Homo sapiens: one gene and its partners. The protein of the gene in region 3 purifies or fractionates together with the protein of the main gene of each other region. This does not show direct contact. Each region holds a gene or a part of one and is shown on either strand. Other genes may lie near its edges.

Region 1 (4,216 bases), on a different chromosome or scaffold from region 3:
GCTGCTCTGTGGTGTCCCACAGCTCTTGACCTCTTGCTCTCCCTGTCCCCTGAGAACCTGAAGAAGGAAGTGAGAGATGGCTCCTCAGGATGCAGCCGGCAGAGGCCAAGGCTCCAGGACTGACAGTAGGGTAGGTGGAGCTGATGCAGTGGGGTCCACTTTGTCCTGGAGCAGGTGGGGCCCTTGGTACACATTCAGGGCATGCACCTCACCTTGACTCCTGGCACTGTCTGGGCCCTTTCTGCTCTGTGACCTGAAAACACTGCCTTAGACCAAGGCCTCACCTCACAGTCCCTGGAGCTCCTGAAAGAGGAATTGAGGGGCCCTCAGGGTTCAGGCTGCAAGCACAGCCCCAGCCTCCCAGTGTTGTCAGGAGGGTGGGCTGGACTCTGTGAGTTCCCCACTACCCTGGGGTGGGGAGCCTCTGTGCTCACGTGGGGCTCTCACCTTTCTCCTGGAAAAGCCTAGACCCTGCTCCTTTGCTGGTCTAAGAAACTCTCAGATCAAAAGCTTACATCCCTGATACGAAATAGAAGACATGAGGGGACCCACATCTGGCCACAACTGCAGAGGTCCTCCCAGAAAAGACAGCAAGAGGTGGCCATATTCAGCTGGGTCCATGTGTACTGGGGTGAGGAGCCTGCTTGGTCCTCTTCTTGATGCCTGATACGACCTGGGACCCTCCCTTTGTTGATCTGAGGCCACTTCCTTAAACCAAGGTCCTACCTCCAGGAGACATGGAAAGAGGAAGTGAGGGGAGTCCATCTACCCCCAGTTCCCCATGAATTCCCGTGGCTGACAGAAGGGGTAGGGTGGGGCTGAGTCCTGTGCGTTTGGAGAATGGTGTCCCCTCAGTCCTCACCTTGACTCCTGGCAGGGTCTGGGACCCTCCCTCTGCTGACCCGAGTGCAGCTCCCTTAGACCAACACCTCTCCCTCCCAGAGACCAGTGATCCTTGTATAAGACAGGGAGACTCAGCGGACAGCCCTGACTGGGTTCTCCAGAGTGACAGTAGGGTCATGGCAGATTTCTGTGGGGACCCCATCTGTGTTATGGGCTGGGGGTACCCTCAGATTTCCCTCAGGTTCCTTACCTGGACTCTTGTCAGATCCTGCGACCCACTGTGTCTGTAGAAAAGAGGGGTTCCCTGTGTTGACTTGAGTCACCCTCTGAGAGCAAGGTTCTCACCTCCCTGAGATTCCAAAACAAAAGTAAGAAGGAGCCACATCCTGTCATCCCTGTGGGGTGTCCAGGGCTGATATCTCCCCTTTACACCAAAACTCCATTTCCCTGAGGGTTCCTCATCTTCCTGCCTGTGGTAAAATTGAGCTTGCCACTTAGTGCCAATCCTGATCAGGTCCCCTCAGAGCTAAGAACAGGGGACAGCCAGACTCTGTGACATCCCTTCTTTCTGGGCTGCAGGTACCTCCAGTCCTCACTAAGGGGGCACCCCTTGGGTCCTGCAGATTCTGGGACTCCTCCCTCTGTTGACCAAGTGTGGAACCCTGTAATAACTTCTTAGCAACCCTCAGACCAAGGTCCTCACCTCCCTGAGACCCGGCAGGCAGAAGTGGGGAGGGGCACCACACGATCACACCTGCATGGGATTCCCAAAGCTGACAGAAGGAGCAGACATTTGGCGGGGGGGGGGGGGGGGGTGGTGGGCAGGGGAGGGGGACAAGACGGGGACTTCCTTTATTTGGGTGTCCTCCAGGTATTCAGATTTACTCCCGACAGGGCCCAGCCCTTTCCCTCCTGCTGAATCGTGTATGGGTCTTGCACGCCAAAGCCACCATCTCCCTGGGATCCCCGGTGAGAAAGTGGGGGCCACTTCTCTTCCTCACCGTCCTGCCTGGGGTTCCAGAGCTGATAAGAGGGACAGATTTCCTAGTTCTGAGATGCGGGGATCTGCTGAGTCCTCCCTCAGGGCTCTGGGACTCCTCCCTCTGCTGACCTGAGGCTCCACTCCTCAGACCATAGCCCTCTCCTCATTGACACCCCAAAGGCACAGCAAAGACACATCACATGGGCCACCGTGCCTGAAACCACCCAGGGCTGAGGTCCCCACTGATCTGGACTCCAAGGTCCCTTGAGTCCTTTCTCTTCTTCCTCCCCTTGACTCTTGGCTGGGTTGTTCTCCTCTACCACGCCCCGCCGCAGACCTGAGTCACCGTCCCTTGGATTCCTCAGGCCGAGTGAAGAGACATCTCGGTCTGAGACAGAGGTGGGGTGGGCACCCTGTCCTGGGATCCCTTCATGCCTCCCTCATTTCCCAGCAGGGCCCGGGCCTTCCCTCTGCTCCCCTGAAGCCGCATTCTTGGTACCAATATCCCCTTCCCTACGTCAGCCTCAGATGCCGACGTCAGAATTTGCGTTCCTGGTCGCCATGACCAGGGCTTCCCAGGGCCGACATCAGGGGCAGAGCCCTCCCTGAGCGTCCCGACATTGATGCTGGCAGAACCTAGGCGCGGCTCCCGCCGAACCAGCCGGGCCCTGGTCACACCAAGCTCTGACTCCCAGAGTCCCCTGCGGCTTAAGCGGCGGGAGAGAGTGGGGGCGGGGGTGGGGGGGGGGTGACAGCCCAGCCTGAGAAGTCTGCCCTCAGGTGGTCCAGAGCTGGCAGCAGAGGCAGCGCTGTATTATTTAGGGCTTTCTATCTGGGTTGGGGGCGTCCTCAGTCCTCCCTCAGCCTCTCACCTTGCCTCCTCACAGAGCCTGGGCCCGCTCTCTTCAGCCGATCTCAAGCCTGTCCCTCAGAACGAGAACCTCGCTTCTCTCTGATCCCCGAGGCGTAAGTTAGTGGCGTCACATCCGGTCCCCGGGGCTTCCCTGGGTTGACAGCAGGGGCGGAGTGGATTCTGCCGGAACTGGGGTGGGAGTTGGGGTGGGAGTGAGGGTGGGAGTCCGGGTGGGGTGGGGTACGGGTGAGGATGGGGTTGGGGCAGGGGTGGTGGTGAAGATGAGTGTGGGGAGGGGCGTGGAGGTGGGAACTGGGATGGGGATCTTGGGGCTGTGGGTCGTGGTGGGGGTGGGGGTGGGGTCTTTCAGTCATCCCTCAGTGTCTCGACCTTGATGCCTGGAAAAGCCTGGACCCCTGTTTTGTGCTGAGGATGTCTTCTCCCCTTAAACCAGGTCTCTTGACTCGGAGTCTTCCAAGGTGGCAGTGAGGGGAGGGTTGTGGTAGGGGTGACAACATTGCCAGGGTCTTCCAGGGCTGACAAGAGGGGCTCAGCTGGATTCTGTGGCCCCTTTGTGAGGGGTGGGTGGACCCTCGGTCCTCACTCAGGAGGGTCTTCCTCCTGGCTTTTGTCTCTTTGATGAAGTGATGGGTGGGAGATGCTCAGTTTCCGTCACCTCTGATCATTTGCCCAGCTGCATCCCTTGCAGAGCATGGGTGCGGTTCCCAGGCCAGATGGTCCCTGGGGAGCTGCAACACCCGTGATTGTAATGACCTATGGGAGAAGACGCACACCTTCCCAACGGGGCTCTTCCCAAGCCACAAGTAGACTTGGCAAACTTTTTGTCCTAAAGGGTATATTTTCTACAAGAAAGAGGCTGAGCATCGGGGTGTGGAGAGGTCCTGCTGTTTTGAGTTTAGCTGATATTTTATAGTCCAATGCAGTGATGTCTGGTTTTCTAACCCTCATTCCTAGTAAAAATATGTGTTTTAAATGTCTGCCAAGTGTATATTGAATACATATATAACATTTCATGAAAGAATACCTACCTTACGCTGTGTGGTTCACTGCTTATTCTATTTCTGGTCTATTCTTTATATTCTATTATAATAATTTTTCTCTTTTTTTCTGAGCAAGAAAATTTAATATAAAGAATTATTAACTTGTAGCAGAGGATCAACTAAGACCAGTCGTCACTGTGGTGGTTTTAGGTGGTTAGCAGCATAGACTCCGGAGTCATACTCCCTCAATCAACCCCGTCTTTCCTGCTGTCCTGATATCACTCCAGAGCTACTGGGCTACTGGCATCGTGGTATGAAGTGTTGCCTCAGATTGTGCAATAAAGCAGGGCCAGAAATTCAAATATTTCTTCCTACTCGTCCTCTTATTTGCCGTCTATGCAGGCTGCGGACCTCCGCAAATGCACTGTTGTCCTCCACTCCCCCTACTCCAAACACAAGGTCCAATTCGAAATTCTGCAGTCTGCTTAGGGTTCTATCATGTTTTGCTGTGTAGAATTTGTTGAGTGTTGATAATGT
Region 2 (3,500 bases), on a different chromosome or scaffold from region 3:
AGGCTGAGGCAGGAGAATCTCTTGAACCCGGAAGGCAAAGGTTGCAATGAGCTGGACCCGCGCCACTACACTCCAGCCTATGCAACAAGAGCAAAACTCTGTCTCAAAAAACAAACAAACAAAAAATGAATTAGGCCAGGCCCGGTGGCTCACCCGTGTAATCCCAGCACTTTGGGAGGCCAAGACGGCTGGATCACTTAAGGTCAGAAGTTCGTGACCAGCCTGGCCAACATGGTGAAAACCCATCTCTACTAAAAATACAAAAATTGGCCGGGCCTGGTGGCACAGGCCTATATTAGCTGAGTGTGGTGACGTGAGCCTGTAATCCCAGTCACTTGGGAGGCTGAGGCAGGAGAACTGCTTGAACTGGGGAGGTGGAGGTTGCAGTGAGCCGAGATGGCACCATTGCACTCCAGTCTGACCACAGAGCAAGACCCTGTCTCTAAAAACAAACAAACAAAAGTCATCGGCGCATTAAGCAGCTCCGTCATGTCCTCACGTGACACGGTCTCACCAACATGGTGGCAACACCACCTGCAACATTCACCGTCACACTGACCAGGCCACCGGCAGGCGCTGCAGTCACAGCTCTGGGCGCCGGCACCACGGCAGAGCAAGTGCCCACTCAGTGCCGGGCACCTACCGTGTGCTGGGCGGGGTGGGGACGGAGGACACAGCCATGTGGGACGTGGGGCGCCACCACAGCAGGCCGGAGGCTGGGCACAAAAGAGTGAGGCTTTAAACGAGAGAAGAATCTGTGAACTTCAAACTCTCAGGGTTTTATAAGGAATAAAGAAGGTTTTTGCAAAATGGAGTCAGGGTTGCCTTCTGGTTTTTTTTTTTTTTTTTTTTTTTTTTTTTTTGAGAAGAAGCCTCACTATGTGGCCCAGGCTGGAGTGCAGTAGCGTGATCTCGACTCACTGCAAGCTCCGCCTCCCGGGTTCAGGTGATTCTCCTGCCTCAGCCTCTTGAGTAGCTGGGACTATAGGCGCCCGCCACTGCGCCCGGCTAATTTTTTGTATTTTTTTAGTAGAGACGGGGTTTCACCGTGTTAGCCAGGATGGTCTCGATCCCGATATCGTGATCCGCCCGCCTCTGCCTCTGCCTCCCAAAGTGCTGGGATTACAGGTGTGAGCCACGACTATCGACAATTTTTTTCTTGAGACAAGGACTTTGTCGCCCAGGATGGAGTGCAGTGCTGCGATCTCAGCTCAGTGCAGCTGCAACCTCCCTGGGCTTAAGTGATCCTCCTACCTCAGCCTCTTGAGTAGTGGGACCACAGGGGCTGCCACCACACCCAGCTAATATTTGATTTTTTGTAGAGATGGGGTCTCACTGTGTGGCCCAGGCTGGCAACTGCGTTTTCTTCTCCCAGCTTGAGAAGGGAGGAGAAGCCGAGGCCAGCAGGTACAACGTGGGCTTCCTCCCTGCTGGGAGAGCTACAGGGCTGTGCAGAGCCGGCAGGGACAGGACCTGGGGCTCCAGGAGGCCCCCACATGCTGCCCCTCAGCCACCTGCCAGCCCTGTTTTATGAGTATGTTTACCGTGGCTGTCACTTTGTCCCAGTCTGTCACAAAGGCACGGAATCCTTCCCCAAACAAGGTGCCAGCCGTCCTGCGGGGAAAGCAGTGGTGTGACCAGGAAGGACACGAAGATCCGTGCCACGCAGCGAGAGCAGGTTGAGGGTGAGGCCCTGACATGGCGGCACGGCCTTGCCAGGACAGAGGGGCAGTGCCCCCACCAAGGAGTCAGCCTACGGCGGCAAGGCCTGGAAGAGCTGGAGAGCGCCCTGGGACCAGCGACTCACACCTGCGGGGCTCCATCTGTGGCCGGCCCGGGCCTCGGCAGTGCTCACCTGATGGACTCCAAGACGGTCTGACGGTGCTCGGCCGCCTTCAGGCGGATCTGCTCGCGGATGATGTCTGCATTCTCCCGCTCGGCCTTGGCGCGCGCCCGGGCCTCGGCCTCCACTCGCAGCATCTCATTCTTGTGCCGCAGCTCCATCTCCCGCTCCACGGTGGCTGCCCCAGAGAGGCAGGGCAGCTCAGCACCATGCAGTGCAGCGCGTCCACCTCCACCCACACTGTGGACCGGCCCACGCCACGGACCGGCCCACGCCACGGACAGACCAACGCCACAGACAGGCCCATGCCACGGACCGGCCCACGCCATGGACAGGCCCACACTGCTGACAGGCTAAGGCCACGGACAGGCCCACGCCACAGACAGGCCCACGCCGCCAATAGGCTAAGGCCACGGACAGGTCCATGCCACAGACACACACAGACCTTGGTAGGGACAGCGCCACAGGCCGGCCCTGCCCATGGATTAGGGCAGAAATCCGACCCAGAGGCCTAGGCAACTTCTCAGGACGAGCTCTTTGAAGCAAAAAACCAGAACGCGGAGTTCTGAAGGAAGCCCCCCTCACACAGAAACACAGCTGTCAGAACTCAGACACGCGTGACGTGCCACGTGCCTGGCTACTGAACATTAAACGCACACACCTCGCCACAAGCCCACCCACGGTGAAGAGTGGTGACAGACGTTTGCCTGGAGCACTCGCCAACAAATGCCACATGGCACCAAATACCTGTGATCCCCACTGAAACCAGGACAGTAAAGACCCATGTTCTAGGCAGAACGCAGAGGCTCACGCCTGTAATCCCAGCACTGTGGAAGGCCAAGGCAGGCGGATAATGAGATCAAGAAGTTCAAGACCAGCCTGGCCAACACAGTGAAACCCTTTCTCTACTGAAGATACAAAAAAATTAGCTGGGCGTGGTGGCGGGAGCCTATAATCCCAGCTACTCGGGAGGCTGAGGCAGGAGAATTGCTTAAACCTGGGAGGCAGAGGTTGCAGTGAGCTGAGATCGTGCTATTGCACTCCTGCCTGGGTGACAGAGCGAGACTCCGTCTCAAAAAAAAAAAAAAGGCCCCTGTACTTCCCATGAAGTGAAGCAGCTCCTGCCCTCCCTGAACAGATCCTGGCGTCCACTCGCAGACAGAGGTGTCTTCCGAGAGGCAGCCCCACCCCGCGGAGCCCCAGCAGGCCTCGCCCACTGCACTGGTAGCTATGAGGGGCCGGGCGGCAGAACTCAGGCTCAGAGTGCACGCCGGGTCCACAAGCAGCCCCCGCCACCTCCGCCCCAGCCAGGAGAGCAGACAGCCTACCTCGCCGCATGGCTTCCTGCTTCTGCACGGACTCCTCCTGCTTCCGTAAATTCTCCTCATTGAGAAGTTGCTGAGAAGAAGCCGCAGAAAAAGAGAAAAGCCTTTAAAACCTGTGACTGTGCCCATGTGTGCGGGGGATGACTGTGCCCGAGTGTGCAGGGGGGTGAGTGTGCCCGTTTGCGGGGTGTGACGGTGCCCGTTTGCGGGGGGTGACGGTGCCCGAATGTGCAGGCGGGTGACTGTGCCCATGTGTGTGGGGGTGATTGTGCCCATGTGTGGGTGGGTTGTGCACCCGTTTGGGTGTGTGTGTGTGTGTGTGTGTGTACCCG
Region 3 (3,500 bases):
ACTCCTGGGCCAAGGGATCTACCCACCTCAGCCTCCTAAAGTGCCGGGATTACAGGCATGTGCCATTGCACCCAGCCTGTTTTTTTTTTTTTTTAATAGTTTCTTTAGTCACTATAATCTATTCAGAAATTATTTCTATTTCTTGAATTTTTAAAATCTCCAAATCTGAAAACTTAGATGAGTAAATGGCTTTCTGGGAAAATAAGAATTATCAAAACGAATCCCCAGGAGACAGAAAATCCAAGTAGATAAAATAACAAATAGCAGCCTGAGGAAGCCAGCAAGGGGCAACAATCCCTGCAAAAAAAGAACAAGTGACTTTGGCCAGACCTGTTAAGGACCAGCTGCCTCCAGGGCTAAGTTAACTGTTCCACAGCCTAGGAAAAGGAGGAAAGCTTCCAAATTCTCCATGAAGCCAGCATTCTATTACCAAAGCCTAACCCTGAGAGCATGATCAAAGAAAACTACATATCCGAGTGAAACATCAGGAACAGACTCCACAGCAAGATGCCACAGACAAGGGGAATCAACGAAAAACCAGGCAGTCACGTCCATGGAAGCCGAAAGCAACGGGATGAAACGTCACAGCCATTCCAGATGTGGTCTTTAGAAACAGTGAGGCACTGGCACCACCATTACTTCACATCGCTTTTTAAAAACCAGACACAATTAGACAAAAGGAAAAAATGAAAGGTTAAAAAAAATCGGAAAGAAGTGGGTAGACTTCTTATCAGTGAGAAGGGACAGTCCCAGAGAATTCAGTAACACAGAGTCAAATATAAATTTATATGCTAAAATCTAGTTTAAAAATAAATAGAATCAAAGAAAATGTCCCATTTGTAACAGCAGTTAGAGGCAAAATACTCTATAATAATTTTCTCAACTTGGAGCTCTATCAATCACATATATTACACAAATTACAGAGAGCGCAAAGAGTTAAACATAAACTATAAAACATATTCAAAGGAGGAAGACCTTTCTAAACATAACAAAATATGGAAGGTGAAAAAAGGGTTTAACTTTTTCCTATTGGGGGGAACAATCAGAAAGTCAGTCCAATGATAAACTGAGGAAAATGTTTGCAACAAAAAGGGCTAATGTCTTATAATAAATGCCTTCAAATTAGTAAAGACTGACAACCCATTATTAAATCGACAGAAAAGATAAGAAAAAGCAATTCACAGAAAAATACTAATGGCTTTTAAACATGTGTAAGATGTTTAAGTTTGCTGGTAATCAGATAAATTACACAGTAAAACTACAATGCAATGCCACTTGTCACCAATCTACCCAGCAAAGGTAAAGTTTGGTAACATGCCCTACGAGGCACTGTGTGGCAGGGAGACATGGACAGGTAGGTACTCCTAGACAGCTGAGGCGAGCAGAAATCCTTCTCTGGGGAGTGACTTGGCAATATCCAACCAAATACCACATGCACCTCACTTCTGAGCCGGCAATTCCACTTCGAGGAGGTAGCTACACAAGAGTCCACATACACGCAAGGCCAGTCACTGCTCTTAGTTGCAAAAGAGGCTTCTGTTTCAGACAACATGTTGACAGTTCCACTGTAAAACGCTTAAAAATGCTGGATAAAATCCTTTTAAGGGCACTGCTGAGCTCACGTAGGAAGTGACTTCCCCAGGACCTGAGCTGAAAACCAGACAGGAGAGGGTGAGCTGCGACTTCAGGGGAGGGGAGGCTGCTGGCAAGCGCCAGGCTCAGCTCCGTGGTTTCATCAAACACACTGAAGGGCCACCCTAGGCAGGGAGCGGAGTATGGAGACTCCTGCTTTCAATACAAAAGCATGAAAGTATAGTCCCTGAAATTAAATTTGGGAGATAGGCTGGAAGCAGATCAGAGAATGCGTGAATCAGAAGAAAAATGTGAAGAAATTACCAAGAATGGAGCACAAAGAGATAAATATGAAAACTGCGAATGGGGGTATAAGAGACATGAGGGACAGAAGGGGTGGTGCACCACACGCCCCAAGTTCCGGAAGGAGAAAAACAGAGTGCGGACAGCTAACAGCTGATGTTTCCCGAACTGATGAAAGACATGCATGCCGACTCAATGCACACGAATCAAACACAAAATACATATCTAAGAGTATAATTTAAAAAATGGGGAAACACAAAGACCAAGAGGTCCTAAAAGCAGCCTGAGAGAAAAAGACATTACCTATTAAGGAAAGATAATTAGACTGACAGGAAAAATCAGACACATTTTAGCTGTCATGAACTGGAATGACGTAGGTGACACGATTAACTAGCTCTTCAACTGAGTGCTAGTTAAAGCAATTATGGTACATCCATACAGTGGGACCCGGGGCAGAACTACACAGGCTGACTGGCAGCCGTGCGCACAGGTGTGTGCTGGGGGACATGCATTTAGGCTGTGCGTGTGTGGGCGGCCCCCAGAGAACGCTCAGCATTTAAGCAGTCGCAATGAGGGAGGCTGACAAGGCTGCTGGGAAGAGGGGTGCGCTTCGCCCTCTAGGCTACTCTGCTTTTGAGGCCCATTTTGAATGTGCGTACTTCCTGTTTAAATAAAACCAAACAATTTTAAAGATCAAATTCTGGAAGCACGTACTTGAAACATTAACAACAATTACCTTGGAGAAGAAAGAGGGCAATAAAGGCGGCTTTTGTGTTTTATTCTGGACGCTGCCATGTTTAAAAAACAAGAATTCATTCATGACCGGGAGGCCTTCAACAGTCACACTCTCTTTCTTGAGCTGAGAGGTGGATGCGCGGGCATTCTCGGTTACTCTTGAAACTGTATGCGCACCTTATATACACTCCCATACATATGTTCGGTTTCATAATTAAAAAATAATACTTTCATCTATTTCTTAGAAAAGGTGAAATAAAACAGGATGGAACAACACGTCGTTTTAGGACACAGAGGAGAGACTGTTTCTTCTTCCTGCTAGGCCATGTAACTGACAAGGCAACCCAAGTGAATAGATATACTCAACGCTGGGAAACAGGTAGCACAGCAAATGGGCACCAGAATATGCCAAGACAACCGATTCCAGGGACAAGTTGAGAGTTCTCTGTATAGAGAACATAAAATTCTATGTGGCCAACATTAACAAGCCCTTCGGACTGGCCACTGAACCTTTCTGGACCAGCATTAGATGGTCTTGAAGAGGTCTGCTAGATCCAAAATTCTGAGATCCATAACAAGTCCATCCAGTGGACACAGATGATAATGTATAGATGATACATAATAGGTCCGTTGCTACAAATGCTGCTCAGTCCCTGACTTGCCAGTGAGGGATCTGGGAGCAGAAAGATGCAGAGAGAGCTTGAAGATGACTTTGTAAACAAAGGTCTCTCTCTGTCACGTTTACAGACACCTATCCTTAGGCATGCGTAGGTAAGAGAAGAGAAAAAGTATAAATGCTGTAAAGAGAACTCTAACCTTAGTCCATAATGGGAACTTGAAAAGGATTGGGGAAAGGGGGAGCGGAAGTGTTTACCAAGTACTTTTCAGTG
Region 4 (3,500 bases), on a different chromosome or scaffold from region 3:
TTTAAAAACTAGCCGGGCGTGGTGGCCTGTGCCTGTAGTCCCAGCTACTCAGGAGGCTGGGGCAGGAGGATCGCTTGAGCCTGGGAGGTTGAGGCTGCAGTGAGCCATGATCACGCCATTGCACTCCAGCCAGGATGACAGAGCAAGACCCCGTCTCAAAAAAAAAAAACAAAAAAAAGAAAAAGGAAAAAAAAAAGAATGGCATTAGCTGAAAATTCAACAAATCTCCAAATTATATTTAATTACTTCAAAATAAAAAGTATCTACTAGGCATTACAAATAAACCTTGTTATAAACAGGAGTTGCAGTTCAACATCAAACGCCTTCACCTGAACTAAAAGGAGATTAAGTTTTGAAATAAAATTATATTAGGAAAAGTGAAAGGTCTAAGGTAAGAATCCCAGCTTCACCACCTGCTCAAGATTATACAGTTAATTAACTTTCCCACCAGTATCTACTTATTTCACAGGGTATTTGTGAAGAACAGTAAATAAATAGATGTAAAGGACCTAAAACAATGCCTGATACATAGTTAAGCACTCAAAAAATGTAGGTACTCAAGATGGCCATGCCATGCCTTCCTTACAATGACTATATAGCAGTTTATTTATAGAAAATCTAATTTGCACCTAGGCTTTTTCTTTTCTTTTCTTTTTTGAGATGGAGTCTTGCTCTGTTGCCCAGGCTGGAGTGCAGTGGCACGATCTCGGCTCACTGCAACCTCCACCTCCCAGGTTCAAGCAATTCTTCTGCCTCAGCCTGAGTAGCTGGGACAACAGGCGCGCACCACCACACCCGGCTAATTTTTGTATTTTTAGTAGAGACAGTGTTTCACCATATTGGCCAGGCTGGTCTCAAACTCCTGACCTCGTGATCTGCCTGCCTCCGTCTCCCAAAGTGCTGGGATTACAGGCGTGAGCCACCGCGCCCCGCCAGCTTTTACTTTTCTTTCTGTCTGCTGAGGAAGCACCTTATGGATACTTGATTACTTAATTACAAATTCCATCATCACCTTAAAGGGCAACGAGATTACAGTTGAGGATATTAACTAAAATTTTTTAGCTATTTCCAATCCTTCAGTTTTCCTATTTAACAGCATTAAGAAACGTACCTTTCTTCCTACAATCAACTTTAAGATAAACTAGGCAAACACTTATATGCAAATACGTAACATACTGTAACCTCTTCACTGATTTAATACATTTTTGCTTCAACCTCTCATCATTCTGCTTATTCCACAATTTTCAAGAACTTGATTTTAATATTTTGTTCACTATTACAGAGTACTAAGAAACACCTAAGGCTAATTTTTGTTTTATTTTAATAACATGACAAAATGTCAGCAATATGTTTTCAATGGCCATTCTCTCTCATAATTTTTTGTCAAATGAATGTGAAAAAACTTAGTATTTTAAAACAAAGCAAGAAAACTATTTGATGCTAAACAGATACTATCATTCATGGTATTTAATGGGTAAACTTACACTACTACTTTAAGTGACTGTACTGAGTGAGGTCTACTAGACTTCAGTAGTAATGCTAGTGTTAAGAAAAAGAAGTGTCACATGTCATACAAGGTAAGGATATTAAATAAGACCTTTACCATAGGTCATTAGGTTTCGGAATACAGCTAATGTGCCACTATTTTTAAATCCACAAAACAACAGGGTTCTACTTTTTCTACTAACTTACCTTACTGCCTAAATCTAACATGCATACTACTCTAAGAAACACAGAAGACGGCCTGGGCAACACAGCAAGACCTTGTCTCTAACAAAAAAAAAAAAAAGAGATGCAGAAGAGAAATGATTTTAAATTGTTTACATTATAGCATTAAACATATGGAATGGACTAAAACCATTAAATTGTGTGAGATATCATAATATGGACTGTTTTTCAAATTTTTACTTATGTCCTTATTTGGGGCATATTTTAGCCTCTACCATTTAAAAAATATTTTTTCAAGACCCAGTCCACAAGGCTAAATCCTACCAAAAGTAAACAGAAAGCAAAGAGTTGAAAACACACAATGTACTTGGATCCAAGTTTCATAAAATAAGACTTTATAAGATAATATCCTAAAATAATTTCCTGTGAAAGTTTAAGACTATCAAATATGCAGATGAGGTTCATTATTAAATATTTAATAACATCTGATATTTTAAGATTACTAAACAATGAAAAATCTACATTAAAATAATTAAAATAACTATCTTGAATGGTTAAGTTGTTCCTTTTTTTTTTTTGAAACAGAGTCTTACTCTATTGTCCAGGCTGGAGACCAGTGGCACAATCACAGCCTAACTGTAGCAGACCTCTCAGGCTCAAGTCTCAGCCTCCTTAGTAGCTGGGACTACAGTTGCACACTGCCATGCCCTGCTAATATTTTTAATTTTTGTAGAGAAAAGGTCTCACTATGTTGTCCAGGCTGGTCTCAGACTCCTGGATTCAAGAGATCCTCTCGCCTGGCCTCCCAAAGTGCTGGGATTACAGGCGTGAGCCACTGCACCTGGCCTGTTCTATTATTTTGACCAATTATTACACACTTCAGATTATCCACATGTATTTGAATTTTTAATAATTTATTTCCACAAGTAAAATTTAAACACATTATCAAAATCATTAGAAAAAATTTCTTACTGTTCGACTTTAAGAAATGAACTTGGCTTTCTATTTTGTTAAATTCAGATTTTAAAAACAAGTATTACATTATTAAATAACAAAAGGATGGGAAAGGGTCCAGTGATGGAACCATACATGGGGCAACACTGGCCATTGACAACGCCGGGTGACAGGGGTTCATTATACTATTCCACATACTTTCTGTAATGTTCCAGATTGATTACGTTTTTTAAAAAACCAAATAGTCAAATTAACAAACAAGCAATTACTGTATTACCTTGAGGATGAAATAAACACTGCAGAGCACTACTGGTTCAGCAGAGAATGTGTGCGTGGTCATAACAATTTAAGCACTGACGTCCAATTTAATCATAGTGTGTGATGTAACATCGGGGCACAATGGGGACAGAAATGGGGGTGATAATGTGAATAGCTTAGTTATCATCTACTAGAGGAGCAAGTCAGCTGGAAATACTAAAATTGACAAGATATAGAAATACCATTTTATTCCCAAAAAGGAAATGAAGCACCAAGGAACCCAGCGGAAGAGTTGAACAACTGCTCTTAGGAGATGGACTAGGGATTAAGGAGTGGGGAGGTAGGGGACTGCCATTTTTCATCCTAAACCCTTTAATACATTATTAGATTTCCAAAAACTTCTTACTGTAAAATGTAACAGATAAAGAAAACCAAAAATTGAAACAAAAATGTCCAGGTTACTCTTTACAAACATCTGTACAACCACCATCCCAGTCAAGATAGCCCACAAGGGCCTCCCCAGCCCTTCCCGATCACAACTCCTTTCCAACAGCTTAAGGGTAGCCACTATACTGACTTTTATAGTACTTTTTACAGTATGTTTTTTTCCTTTTACTTCA

Evidence for each region.
Region 1: the proteins of FBXW8 (region 3) and MAGEA10 purify together in Homo sapiens (affinity purification with mass spectrometry, with the first as the bait; one large-scale study listed by BioGRID). This does not show direct contact.
Region 2: the proteins of FBXW8 (region 3) and ATAD3A purify together in Homo sapiens (affinity purification with mass spectrometry, with the first as the bait; one large-scale study listed by BioGRID). This does not show direct contact.
Region 4: the proteins of FBXW8 (region 3) and PPP2R2A purify together in Homo sapiens (affinity purification with mass spectrometry, with the first as the bait; one large-scale study listed by BioGRID). This does not show direct contact.

The regions. Positions count from the first base shown.
Region 1 is NC_000023.11:152,135,778-152,139,993, forward strand, and holds the start of MAGEA10 (melanoma-associated antigen 10), read right to left. Parts: upstream 2,801-4,216; 5' UTR 2,698-2,800; intron 1,193-2,697; 5' UTR 1,094-1,192; intron 304-1,093; exon of another isoform or gene 213-303; intron 58-212; 5' UTR 1-57. UniProt on the Homo sapiens protein: Not known, though may play a role in embryonal development and tumor transformation or aspects of tumor progression.
Region 2 is NC_000001.11:1,518,662-1,522,161, reverse strand, and holds part of ATAD3A (ATPase family AAA domain-containing protein 3A), read right to left. Parts: intron 3,242-3,500; coding exon 3,172-3,241; intron 2,022-3,171; coding exon 1,856-2,021; intron 1,615-1,855; coding exon 1,545-1,614; intron 1-1,544. UniProt on the Homo sapiens protein: Essential for mitochondrial network organization, mitochondrial metabolism and cell growth at organism and cellular level. May play an important role in mitochondrial protein synthesis. May also participate in mitochondrial DNA replication.
Region 3 is NC_000012.12:117,018,950-117,022,449, reverse strand, and holds part of FBXW8 (F-box/WD repeat-containing protein 8), read right to left. Parts: intron 1-3,500. UniProt on the Homo sapiens protein: Substrate-recognition component of the Cul7-RING(FBXW8) ubiquitin ligase complex, which mediates the ubiquitination and subsequent proteasomal degradation of target proteins.
Region 4 is NC_000008.11:26,298,008-26,301,507, reverse strand, and holds part of PPP2R2A (serine/threonine-protein phosphatase 2A 55 kDa regulatory subunit B alpha isoform), read right to left. Parts: intron 1-3,500. UniProt on the Homo sapiens protein: Substrate-recognition subunit of protein phosphatase 2A (PP2A) that plays a key role in cell cycle by controlling mitosis entry and exit. Involved in chromosome clustering during late mitosis by mediating dephosphorylation of MKI67.